Linked DNA regions of Homo sapiens. The protein of the gene in region 1 interacts with the protein of each later gene in a pairwise test. Each region holds a gene or a part of one and is shown in the gene's direction. Other genes may lie near its edges. The genes, in order: NDN, NEFL and SYAP1.

Region 1 (3,750 bases):
GATCTGCCCGCCTCACCTTCCCAAAGTGCTGGGATTACAGGCGTGAGCCACCGCACCTGGCCTAAATATTTTATTTAAATAGTTAGAAAATAATACATACCCAAACAAAATAAAGAATAATATTGATGGAGATTTAAATGCAATAAATGAGGATTATATTTATGAAGCATGGGGGTAATAAGTCTGTTCAAGAGACATTCTTAAAAACAATGAATATAATTAGCATATTTCTGTAAGATGTTCCCAAGAAAATGGTAGATATCTATAAATAGAAGAAGGAGAAAAAGGAGAAGTAGATGGAGAGGAGAAGGAGGAGGTGGAGGAGGGTGAGGAGGAGGAGAAAAGTGTTGAAATAATTCCAACTAAGACTGATATCTAGGAATTACCCTGGTGAAGTGGGAAGCTTAAGAGTCCTGTTGGAGGGACTGGTGTGGTAATGGCTCTGCCAAAAGTGTTATGTGCGTGCAAACCCAAAGAGAGAAAGCACAGAAAACCTTTCAACATCAACCTGCTTGAGGAAAAATAAAGTGGGAAAAGATACATACTCACAGTGAGGACTCTAGACATGTCAAGACAATTTTTAAATATGCTTTTGGCTTCGAGTGGCAATAACTAGATTCAAGACAGCATATTTAAGAAGCTGCTGATGAGAAGAAACCCGGGAAGAGCTGAAGGACCACATCAGCCCAGACCAAGGATGCTGAAGCAGCATTAAGGTCCCTGGTTTCAGATGCTCAGGCAATGACCCTTTTTTTCATGGAGAGCCTGTAGGAGTGACAGTTTTGTCTTTGCCCACTGGGAATCTGTTTTCCATACCTGGAAAACAGGGTTACCTATGTTTCCCCTGCTACCCTTTGGTCATCTCAGAGACACTACCAGATATTACCCATGGGACCTATTTTTTTTTTAAATCTCAGGAAAGACTTGGGTGTGGCTTCCAACGTGGAGGACTCAGTAGCTTCAGAGAGGGTCCTGAGAGAAGGTGAATTGAAGAATGAGGGTGCTGGGCAGAGGGAAAAGACATTATCATACAAGTTTGTGCTAAAAGATATAGCAATCCTTCTGCTATGGACTAAGTATGGAAAAAAATAAAATGGAATCAAAGTTACCCAAAGGAAGTGTAAAACCCAAATTTATGCCCGTTAAAGCATTAATGATGCTCTAAGTCCACTGCCTACTTAAAAAGTTCATAGTTCACATGGGTTGATAGGAAATTACGTTAACGACACACTGCATTTCCCCTTTTCTTATAGCCTATCTGATTTGGTAGGGAGTCGATCATTTTTTATTGGAATTTCTCAGGATTCCAACCTCAGACATCCACTTTACAGTTTACACATTTTCTTGGACAAGCCCGACTGTTCCTCTCACTGGTTCGCATAAAGCTCATGTTTACAAAGCCGCCCAGACCTTTCTCTGGGACTCTCATATTTAACTTAATTCTGGATATACCCAGGTAAGCGTTTCCCAAGAAACTTGACCCCAACATCCCAAAAACTTAAGGTATCTTTCCCTTAAACTGGCCCCTTCTCCAGTACGCATCCATCTCACTTCTCTCCTGCCCTAGATCTTCTCAGCCCAAACAGGAAACCCCGGGATCGCTCTCCCAGCAGGTGAAGCCTCGCCATGGACCCTCCCCGTCGGGGCCCCGCGCTGCCCCGCCCGCCCCCAGCCGCTGGCCAAGGCCGCGGTCGCGCAGGCGCAGTGCCGCGTCCCGCCGCCGCCCCGCCCTGCCCGTCGCTGCGGAAGGCGCCGCGCGCAGCAACGCGCACTTCCTCTCCAGGAATCCGCGGAGGGAGCGCAGGCTCGAAGAGCTCCTGGACGCAGAGGCCCTGCCCTTGCCAGACGGCGCAGACATGTCAGAACAAAGTAAGGATCTGAGCGACCCTAACTTTGCAGCCGAGGCCCCCAACTCCGAGGTGCACAGCAGCCCTGGGGTTTCGGAGGGGGTTCCTCCGTCCGCGACCCTGGCAGAGCCGCAGAGCCCTCCTCTAGGCCCGACGGCCGCTCCGCAGGCCGCGCCGCCTCCCCAGGCCCCGAACGACGAGGGCGACCCGAAGGCCCTGCAGCAGGCTGCGGAGGAGGGCCGCGCCCACCAGGCCCCGAGCGCGGCCCAGCCGGGCCCGGCACCGCCAGCCCCGGCGCAGCTGGTGCAGAAGGCGCACGAGCTCATGTGGTACGTGCTGGTCAAGGACCAGAAGAAGATGATCATCTGGTTTCCAGACATGGTGAAAGATGTCATCGGCAGCTACAAGAAGTGGTGCAGGAGCATCCTCCGGCGCACCAGCCTCATCCTCGCCCGGGTGTTCGGGCTGCACCTGAGGCTAACCAGCCTGCACACCATGGAGTTTGCGCTGGTCAAAGCGCTGGAGCCCGAGGAGCTGGACAGGGTGGCGCTGAGCAACCGCATGCCCATGACAGGCCTCCTGCTCATGATCCTGAGCCTCATCTACGTGAAGGGCCGCGGCGCCAGAGAGAGCGCCGTCTGGAACGTGCTGCGCATCCTGGGGCTGCGGCCCTGGAAGAAGCACTCCACCTTCGGGGACGTGCGGAAGCTCATCACTGAGGAGTTCGTCCAAATGAATTACCTGAAGTACCAGCGCGTCCCATACGTGGAGCCGCCCGAATACGAGTTCTTTTGGGGCTCCCGGGCCAGCCGCGAAATCACCAAGATGCAAATCATGGAGTTCCTGGCCAGGGTCTTTAAGAAAGACCCCCAGGCCTGGCCCTCCCGATACAGAGAAGCTCTGGAGGAGGCCAGAGCTCTGCGGGAGGCTAATCCCACTGCCCACTACCCTCGCAGCAGTGTCTCTGAGGACTAGCAAAGTCTGGAGGCAGATGAATGGTTTCTGACCCTCACCAGGGCTGTGGAAGGGTGGGGGTGGGTCATTATAGTATTCAGGATTTACAGTGCAGTATTCACGTGTAACTTTTAAGTTTTCAGTACAGTGCTTTTATACCTTTAATGCAATGTTGTATTCATTTGGGTACTATTGTGTAGTATTTAGGATGTATGCATGTTTGTTTATATGTAAGCTTGGTTGGTGCTTTCGCTTTTGTGCTACCTTTCTTGGATTTTTGTACCAGAGATGTGCTAAACTGATGAAATACATTGAGAAAGTTTCCATCTTATTCTTTTATATGGGACTGATGATGTGTGTTGGGGTAGACTGCTCCTGCAGAGTTTGGAAGAAGTCACCAGCAAAGCCGGCCTAACCAAGAAAAGTCAAGGCCCTTCATGACCTTGCTGGGCACAGAAAACACCCTCGTGGAGTACACTAATTTGAACTGGACTGGTCTCAGTGTGAGCACTTGGCACACTTTACTAAACACATATACAACCCCACCGTGAGTCAACTTTAAAGTAAACATTAAAGATTCTTGTGATACAATCATTTTTGGAAAAGTGTACTTTATCATTTTAACAAAGCAGTATGGTTGGGAATGAGACAATTCTCTATTTTACAGTGTATACAGATACAACTATTTCCCCTAATAGGGTGGGAAAAATCGCTACTCATGATTACTCCTAAATTTGTGAAGTTTATAGTTCTATTGTCTTTAAATGTAACTCATGTTTATTTCAAAAACATTCACAAATATAGAAAAGTATACAAAACAAAACAGTAAGATTGTCTGTAATCACATCATATGGGAATAAAAAACAAAAATAATTTCCTTCCCTTAAGTTTCTACATTTTATCAAAATTAATAGATGTCTTGTGACATCTATTAATATACATATAACAT
Region 2 (3,750 bases), on another chromosome or scaffold:
AGACCAAGGATAGCTAGGCTATGAAAAGTCAACAGAGTAAGTACCCTACCAAACCTGCCAGGGACAAACAATATTCAGGACAGCCTCATGACCTTAGGCTTGAAATCTAGAATATTTGGGCATGGATGGTCCTCTGAGATCACTTAGTCTTGATAGATTTAAACTACTAATTTCAATATTTGTGAATTTGCATTATTTGCGACAACAGACATTGTTTAGAAACCCGAGGAAAGTTATCTGCTGCAGTCTATCATGAGGACGGTGGGCTATCACAATCACAGGTATTTTTTTTGGGGGGGGGGATGAGAAAGGGCCTCTGAGGATAAGCCTCACCCCATCCTTTCCTCGGGAGAGGAGTGAAATGTCTCCAGAAGCAACTGCACCACTGCAAATACTTCACCCTCCAAGTATCACAGGGGAAGCCATTCCGGCTTCTCTATTTGAAAACAGTTACCATATTCCCCCTCAGTTTGCCTCTTAAAAAAAACATAAGTTGCACATCAAATGCTGCGATATACAAATAAAACAAAAACTAAATGCTTGCTCAGATAAATCTTAGGTGTTTCGTGTAAATCTCTGCAATCCCTCCATGAAACCTGGGGGACTCCTAACATCATGCGTGTGAAAATGCCCTGCAAACCGTAGGGTTGTATCCACGTGCGCTACCGCGTGCGCCAGTTTCAAGCATCTGGGTGCTTCCTGAAGGAAATCCATGCATTCCTGACTGCATCTGTTTTCGGGTTATTACATTGTATCGGGGGAAGAGTCACGCGGCTATGGCTATTTTCTATCCGTTCCTGAAGAAGCCTGGGTGCCGAGTTCTCCTCCCCAGAGACCACACCCAGCGCTCAGGGCTGGCCGCAGCGGCTTCCCTGAAAATCAGCCAACTGCAAGGCTTATCGAAATCATCAGGTCGTGTGCTACACATGTGTAAAAAGAGGAAAGCGGACTTTAAATGTGCTGCGGTTGGTGGTAGCAAGCAGGAATTTAGCTTGGTGAGGATCCAGGCAGCTTGAAGCTCCCGGCTGCGGAGCGCGCGGCTGCCTCAGCAAGTCAGTCTCTGTGTTTCCAACTCTTTCTCTGCCCTCCACCACCCACACACTGCAACACGTTAAAGCCATCTGCGGCTTCATTCTCAGTTAAGAAATGTGAAAATCTAGAAACACTAACAGGCGGATTAACTGCTGTAAAGGTTTAAAAATGCTAAACCAATACCTGCAGTAGTGCCGCAGTTTCACGAGTGTGTGTGTGTGTGTGTGTGTGTGTGCGCGCGCGCGCGCGCACTCGCGCGCACATTCCCTATGTGTTAAGCAGCTCATTAAAGAAAAAGAAAAATAATCAGGAGAAAGGAAGATGAATTGCAGAAAGTGCCAGAAAGCTAGAAAGAAATTAAAACTCTTCTCCATACATACTGCATACACATAACCTAGCCTATTTATTTGTATCTAAAATTCCCTAGCCGCACCATCACCGTAAACACCAAGGGAAAAAATTAAGGAGGTTCCTGGTGGGAAAAGGGCGAGTTGGGGGGACAGGGTGTCTGCGAGGTGACGGGATACAGAAAACTAGGGTGTCAAAAGGGAGCAAGAACCTGTTTTGGGGGCAACTTAAGGATCCAAGTGTCACGGGGTCTGGGCAATGCAGGACGGGAGGGGCTGCGTGAGTGAGTACAGAAGGGAAATGAGTGAGGGGGCATGGGATCTCAGAGAAAATCAGGGCCCTCTGAGCAAAGTGGAAAGGACGACCGCCGCAGCTCCTCGGGCCGTAGCTCGACCCCGCCTTCCCTTTTGCGCAGAATCCTCGCCTTGGCTGCAGCAGCGCGCTGCCCCCACTGGCCGGCGTGCCGTGATCGATCGCAGGCTGCGTCAGGAGCCTCCCGGCGTATAAATAGGGGTGGCAGAACGGCGCCGAGCCGCACACAGCCATCCATCCTCCCCCTTCCCTCTCTCCCCTGTCCTCTCTCTCCGGGCTCCCACCGCCGCCGCGGGCCGGGGAGCCACCGGCCGCCACCATGAGTTCCTTCAGCTACGAGCCGTACTACTCGACCTCCTACAAGCGGCGCTACGTGGAGACGCCCCGGGTGCACATCTCCAGCGTGCGCAGCGGCTACAGCACCGCACGCTCAGCTTACTCCAGCTACTCGGCGCCGGTGTCTTCCTCGCTGTCCGTGCGCCGCAGCTACTCCTCCAGCTCTGGATCGTTGATGCCCAGTCTGGAGAACCTCGACCTGAGCCAGGTAGCCGCCATCAGCAACGACCTCAAGTCCATCCGCACGCAGGAGAAGGCGCAGCTCCAGGACCTCAATGACCGCTTCGCCAGCTTCATCGAGCGCGTGCACGAGCTGGAGCAGCAGAACAAGGTCCTGGAAGCCGAGCTGCTGGTGCTGCGCCAGAAGCACTCCGAGCCATCCCGCTTCCGGGCGCTGTACGAGCAGGAGATCCGCGACCTGCGCCTGGCGGCGGAAGATGCCACCAACGAGAAGCAGGCGCTCCAGGGCGAGCGCGAAGGGCTGGAGGAGACCCTGCGCAACCTGCAGGCGCGCTATGAAGAGGAGGTGCTGAGCCGCGAGGACGCCGAGGGCCGGCTGATGGAAGCGCGCAAAGGCGCCGACGAGGCGGCGCTCGCTCGCGCCGAGCTCGAGAAGCGCATCGACAGCTTGATGGACGAAATCTCTTTTCTGAAGAAAGTGCACGAAGAGGAGATCGCCGAACTGCAGGCGCAGATCCAGTACGCGCAGATCTCCGTGGAGATGGACGTGACCAAGCCCGACCTTTCCGCCGCGCTCAAGGACATCCGCGCGCAGTACGAGAAGCTGGCCGCCAAGAACATGCAGAACGCTGAGGAATGGTTCAAGAGCCGCTTCACCGTGCTGACCGAGAGCGCCGCCAAGAACACCGACGCCGTGCGCGCCGCCAAGGACGAGGTGTCCGAGAGCCGTCGTCTGCTCAAGGCCAAGACCCTGGAAATCGAAGCATGCCGGGGCATGAATGAAGCGCTGGAGAAGCAGCTGCAGGAGCTGGAGGACAAGCAGAACGCCGACATCAGCGCTATGCAGGTGCGGCACGGCCAGAAACACAGGGGGGCGGGGGACTCGAGCAAGGGGGGGAGTTGGTGCGCCCAGAAAGTGGAGACCAGGGGTGGTGCGGCTGCACGCAGCTCTTAGGGATAGGGCTTGGCTCCTTGGCCACTGTGTGGGAGGGGTGGGGCACTTGAAGGGCGTGAGTGCGGGCGCCACTGTAGTCTGGGAGTGTGCTCCGTGCTGCTGCACCGGCGTTCCGCATTAAAGCTGCCCAGCCCTTGTTGGGTGGGGGAGGGGAAGACGTGGGAATTGGGCGTTGCCTCCGGCCTGCAGTGAGATCAGCTCTCTACTGACCTGCATTAACCACAAGTTACTTTGCAGCAACTATCGGATCATCTAGTTAATAAATAGTAGAGTGAACAACTCTCAATTAATTCTGAAGGATTACTGTGACCAGCATGCTTTATGACTAGTTTTACCAACCACTCCCTTCCTTTATTTAGTAGGTAGACAGGAAAATAGTCAACATTGTTTTAGGTAGTTAACTAGTGATGTTCATAGTAAACCATTTCCTTTTACCTTTTTTTTTTCTTTTTTTCTTTATGTGTAAAATCTTCTACAACATTTCTGTTTAAACATCTCCATCTTCTGGGGAGTAGAAAAAATACAATTTTAAAAAGATCTCCATTTTAAAACATCTCCATCTTCTGGGGAGTAGAAATTTTTTTCTT
Region 3 (3,750 bases), on another chromosome or scaffold:
CCCGTCTCTACTAAAAATACAAAAAAAAATTAGCCGGGCCTGGTGGTGGGTGCCTGTAGTCCCAGCTATTCGGAAGGCTGAGGCAGGAGAATGGCATGAACCTGGGAGGCGGAGCTTGCAGTGAGCCGAGATCGCGTCACTGCACTCCAGCCTGGGTGACAGAGCGAGACTCCGCCTCAAAAATAAATAAATAAATAAATAATAAGTTTTTGGCCCTGGTGCAGTGGCTCACATCTACAATTCCAGCTACTCGGGAGGAAGCTGAGATGGGACAATCACTTGAACCCGGGAGGCGGATGTTGCAGTGAGCCGAGATCACACCACTGCACTCCAGCCTGGGTGACAGAGCAAGACTTCATCTCAAAATAATAATAATAATAATAATAAATTTTTAAAAGCTGGCATTCTCCTTGACTGTAGACATGTACATGGAAGATTCTTTTCCCAGCTGCTGCATGCCAAAAGAGCATTGCTTCTGGGAAGGAGCAGGCTGCTTTTAAAAACCAGTTTTCTTTTTGAGATAGGGTCTCACTCTGTCACCCAGGCTGAAGTGCAATAGTGCCGTCATAGCTCACTGCAGCCTCAAACTCCTAGGCTCACACCATCCACCCACCTCAGGCTCCAATGTAGCTGGGACTATAGGCGTGTGCCACCACACCAGGCTAATTTTTTTAATTTTTTGTAGAGATGGGGTCTTGCCAGATTGCCCAGGCTGATCTTGAACTCTTGGGCTCAAGCAATCTTGCCACCTCAGTGTCTCTAAGTGCTAGTATTATAGGTATGTGCCACCATGCCCAGCCCAACAGTCTTTTTTTTTTTTTGAGATGGAGTCTCACCCTGTCGCCCAGGCTGGAGTGCAGTGGTGCAGTCACGGCTCACTGCAACCTCCACCTCCTGGATTCAAGCGATTCTCCTGCCTCAGCCTCCCAGGTAGCTGGGACTACAGGCGTGCACCACCACACCTGGCTAATTTTTGTATGTTTTGTATCGCTATGTTGGCAGGCTGGTCTCGAACTCCTGGCCTCAAGTGATCTGTCTGCCTCGGCCTCCCAAAGTGCTGGGATTACAGGCATGAGCCAACATGCCTGGCCCCAATAGTCTTTTATATATTATATATCTTGGCTCCAGGACTAAATTGTAAGATCCCCAAGGGCAGTTACACATTGTCTTTCTGTCCCCCTACAGTACCTAATGTGGAACTTAGCACTCAGTAAGCACCCTAATAAATATTTGTGAAATTGGTGGCTTCCTGCACAACACAGGGTGTCTTTTCCTTTGAGGTTGCTGCTGTAGAACGATTAAAGCATTTCATTTTTGTTTTCTCTATAGCTAAGTTTAAGGTTTATTTTTAAAGACAGGCTGGGCACGGTGGCTCATGCCTGTAATCCCAGCACTTTGGGAGGCTGAGGCGGGCGGATCACGAGGTCAGGAGATCGAGACCATCCTGGCTAACATGGTGAAACCCCGTCTCTACTAAAAATACAAAAAAAAAAAAAAATTAGCCTGGCGTGGTGGTGGGTGCCTGTAGTCCCAGCTACTTGGGAGGCTGAGGCAGCAGAATGGCCTGAACCCAGGAAGCGGAGCTTGCAGTGACCTGAGATCATGCCACTGCACTGCAGCCTGGGCAACAGAGCAAGACTCCGTCTCAAAAAAAAAAAAAAAATACAAAAATTAGCCAGGCGTGGTGGCAGGCACCTGTAATCCCAGCTACTTGGGAGGCTGAGGCAGGAGAATCGCTTGAACCCAGGAGGCAGAGGTTGCAGTGAGCCGAGACCACACCATTGCACTCCAGCCTGGGCAACAGAGTGAGACTCTGTCTCAAAAAAAAAAAAGAGACAAAAATGAATCTTAGCTTTACTTTTTAAATAGCCAGTTTGTTTTCTCACCATTTTATAACATTACATAGCAGATGCATTATCCTACACACACAGAGGTATATTGAGTGTCTGTGTAGAAAGTTGCAGGTCTAAATCTCAACGCGGAAGACCAGTGTGAGAGCTCCAGTCAGAACACCATGAGAGAGTCCAGGCTGACTTCAGACCCCGGTGTCTGTCTCCACTCTTAAGGAGACAGCTCTTTGTATAGTGGTTAAGCATAGACTGTGGAGCCTGCAGATGTGGTTCCATCCTTATATCTGTCGCTGTCAAACGGTGTGATCTTGGGCAAGTTGCTTAACCTCTCCTAAGTCTCCATTTCCCTATCTATAAGATGTGGCAAATAGTAATACCTTGTCCATGGACTGTTCCAAGGGTGAAAAGCGTGATACATAGAAAGCAGTTGGGCCAGTGCCCAGCCCAGTAAGTGCTCAATAAACATTAGCTGCTTTTGCTACCATCATCATCATTGGTAGTGGTAAAAATTAACTTGCAACCAAGTATTAATTATCATTTACCCATTTAAATAAAAGGAAATGCAGAGGCATAGGGAAAGCAAAATAACACCCAAAATATATTGATGACATCTGATACCTTTGCTTCTACATTAACAGATTTATCTTTCTAATTGTGTTTATCCTTGGTCACTGTTAAAATTTACTGAGTTTTTCTGAGCACACATAGTAGTGAAGCCTGAGATACTAAAAATTACAGCAGCTAGGACTTTACGTAGGTAATTGAGATGGACCGAATTGTGAACACCAGCATTATGAATTCAGAGAGAATCTTTTTCTTCTCCTTTGTTTCTTTTAGAGGATTCTGCAGATTGGGAAAAAGAACTGCAGCAGGAACTTCAAGAATATGAAGTGGTGACAGAATCTGAAAAACGAGATGAAAACTGGGATAAGGAAATAGAGAAAATGCTTCAAGAGGAAAATTAGCTGTTCCTGAAATAGAAGAATAATCCTTAACAGTCTGCAAACTGACATTAAATTCTAGATGTTGACAATTACTGAATCAGAAGGCATGAAAGAGTATAATTTTATGAAATTCAAAATTATTCTTTTTTCAAGTTGAAACTTGCCTCTTCTACTTTAAAAAAGTATATAGAACAGTTACTTCTAATAATCAGAAAGAGATGTTTTATAGAACATTTCTTTAATATAAAGTTAGAGATGTCTTCATAGGCAGTATGGCTATCTTTGCCACAGAAACATAAGTAAAATTTTAGAGTTCTGTTTTCCATGAGGTCAAAAATATAATTTATTCCTCAGTCATGGTTTTCTAAATATCTGTACTCCACATTCCATTTTAATTGATATGAGGGTGTTAAAGTACCTACTTAATGGGTTGATTACTATCAAAATGACCAAATTATACCAAAGAACTTAAGAGGAAGCACTTTCAGAACTATTCACTTGCCAGGTATTTTCTAAAATTCCACCTGAAAGCCAAAAGATAAAATAAATAAGTTGATTTTAATGATATAAGCATCACACAATTTTACATTAAGAAATACTGTGCAGGCCATGCGTGGTGGCTCAGGCCTGTAATCCCAGCACTTTGGGAGGCCGAGGTGGGCAGATCACCGGAGGTCAGGAGTTCGAGACCAGCCTTGCCAACATAGTGAAACCCTGTCTCTACTAAAAATACAAAAATTAGCCGGGCATGGTGGCAGGCACCTGTAATCCCAGCTACTAGGGAGGCTTTTGAACCCAGGAGGCAGAGGTTGCAGCGAGCTGAGATCGCGCCACTGCACTCCAGCCTGGGTGATAGAGTGAGATTCAGTCTCAAAAAAAAAAAAAAAAAAAAGCTGTGCGAAAATATTTGTTTTTCTCTGGGGCCTTTTCTTTCTTTTCTTTTTAAACTATACCAG

What was found.
Region 2: the proteins of NDN (region 1) and NEFL interact in binary tests that used the Homo sapiens proteins (3 or more experiments, as listed by UniProt).
Region 3: the proteins of NDN (region 1) and SYAP1 interact in binary tests that used the Homo sapiens proteins (3 or more experiments, as listed by UniProt).

Annotation. Positions count from the first base shown.
Region 1 is NC_000015.10:23,685,324-23,689,073, reverse strand, and holds NDN (necdin), read left to right. Parts: upstream 1-1,768; 5' UTR 1,769-1,856; coding exon 1,857-2,822; 3' UTR 2,823-3,674; downstream 3,675-3,750. UniProt on the Homo sapiens protein: Growth suppressor that facilitates the entry of the cell into cell cycle arrest.
Region 2 is NC_000008.11:24,954,777-24,958,526, reverse strand, and holds the start of NEFL (neurofilament light polypeptide), read left to right. Parts: upstream 1-1,914; 5' UTR 1,915-2,011; coding exon 2,012-3,055; intron 3,056-3,750. UniProt on the Homo sapiens protein: Neurofilaments usually contain three intermediate filament proteins: NEFL, NEFM, and NEFH which are involved in the maintenance of neuronal caliber.
Region 3 is NC_000023.11:16,757,545-16,761,294, forward strand, and holds part of SYAP1 (synapse-associated protein 1), read left to right. Parts: intron 1-2,687; coding exon 2,688-2,815; 3' UTR 2,816-3,750.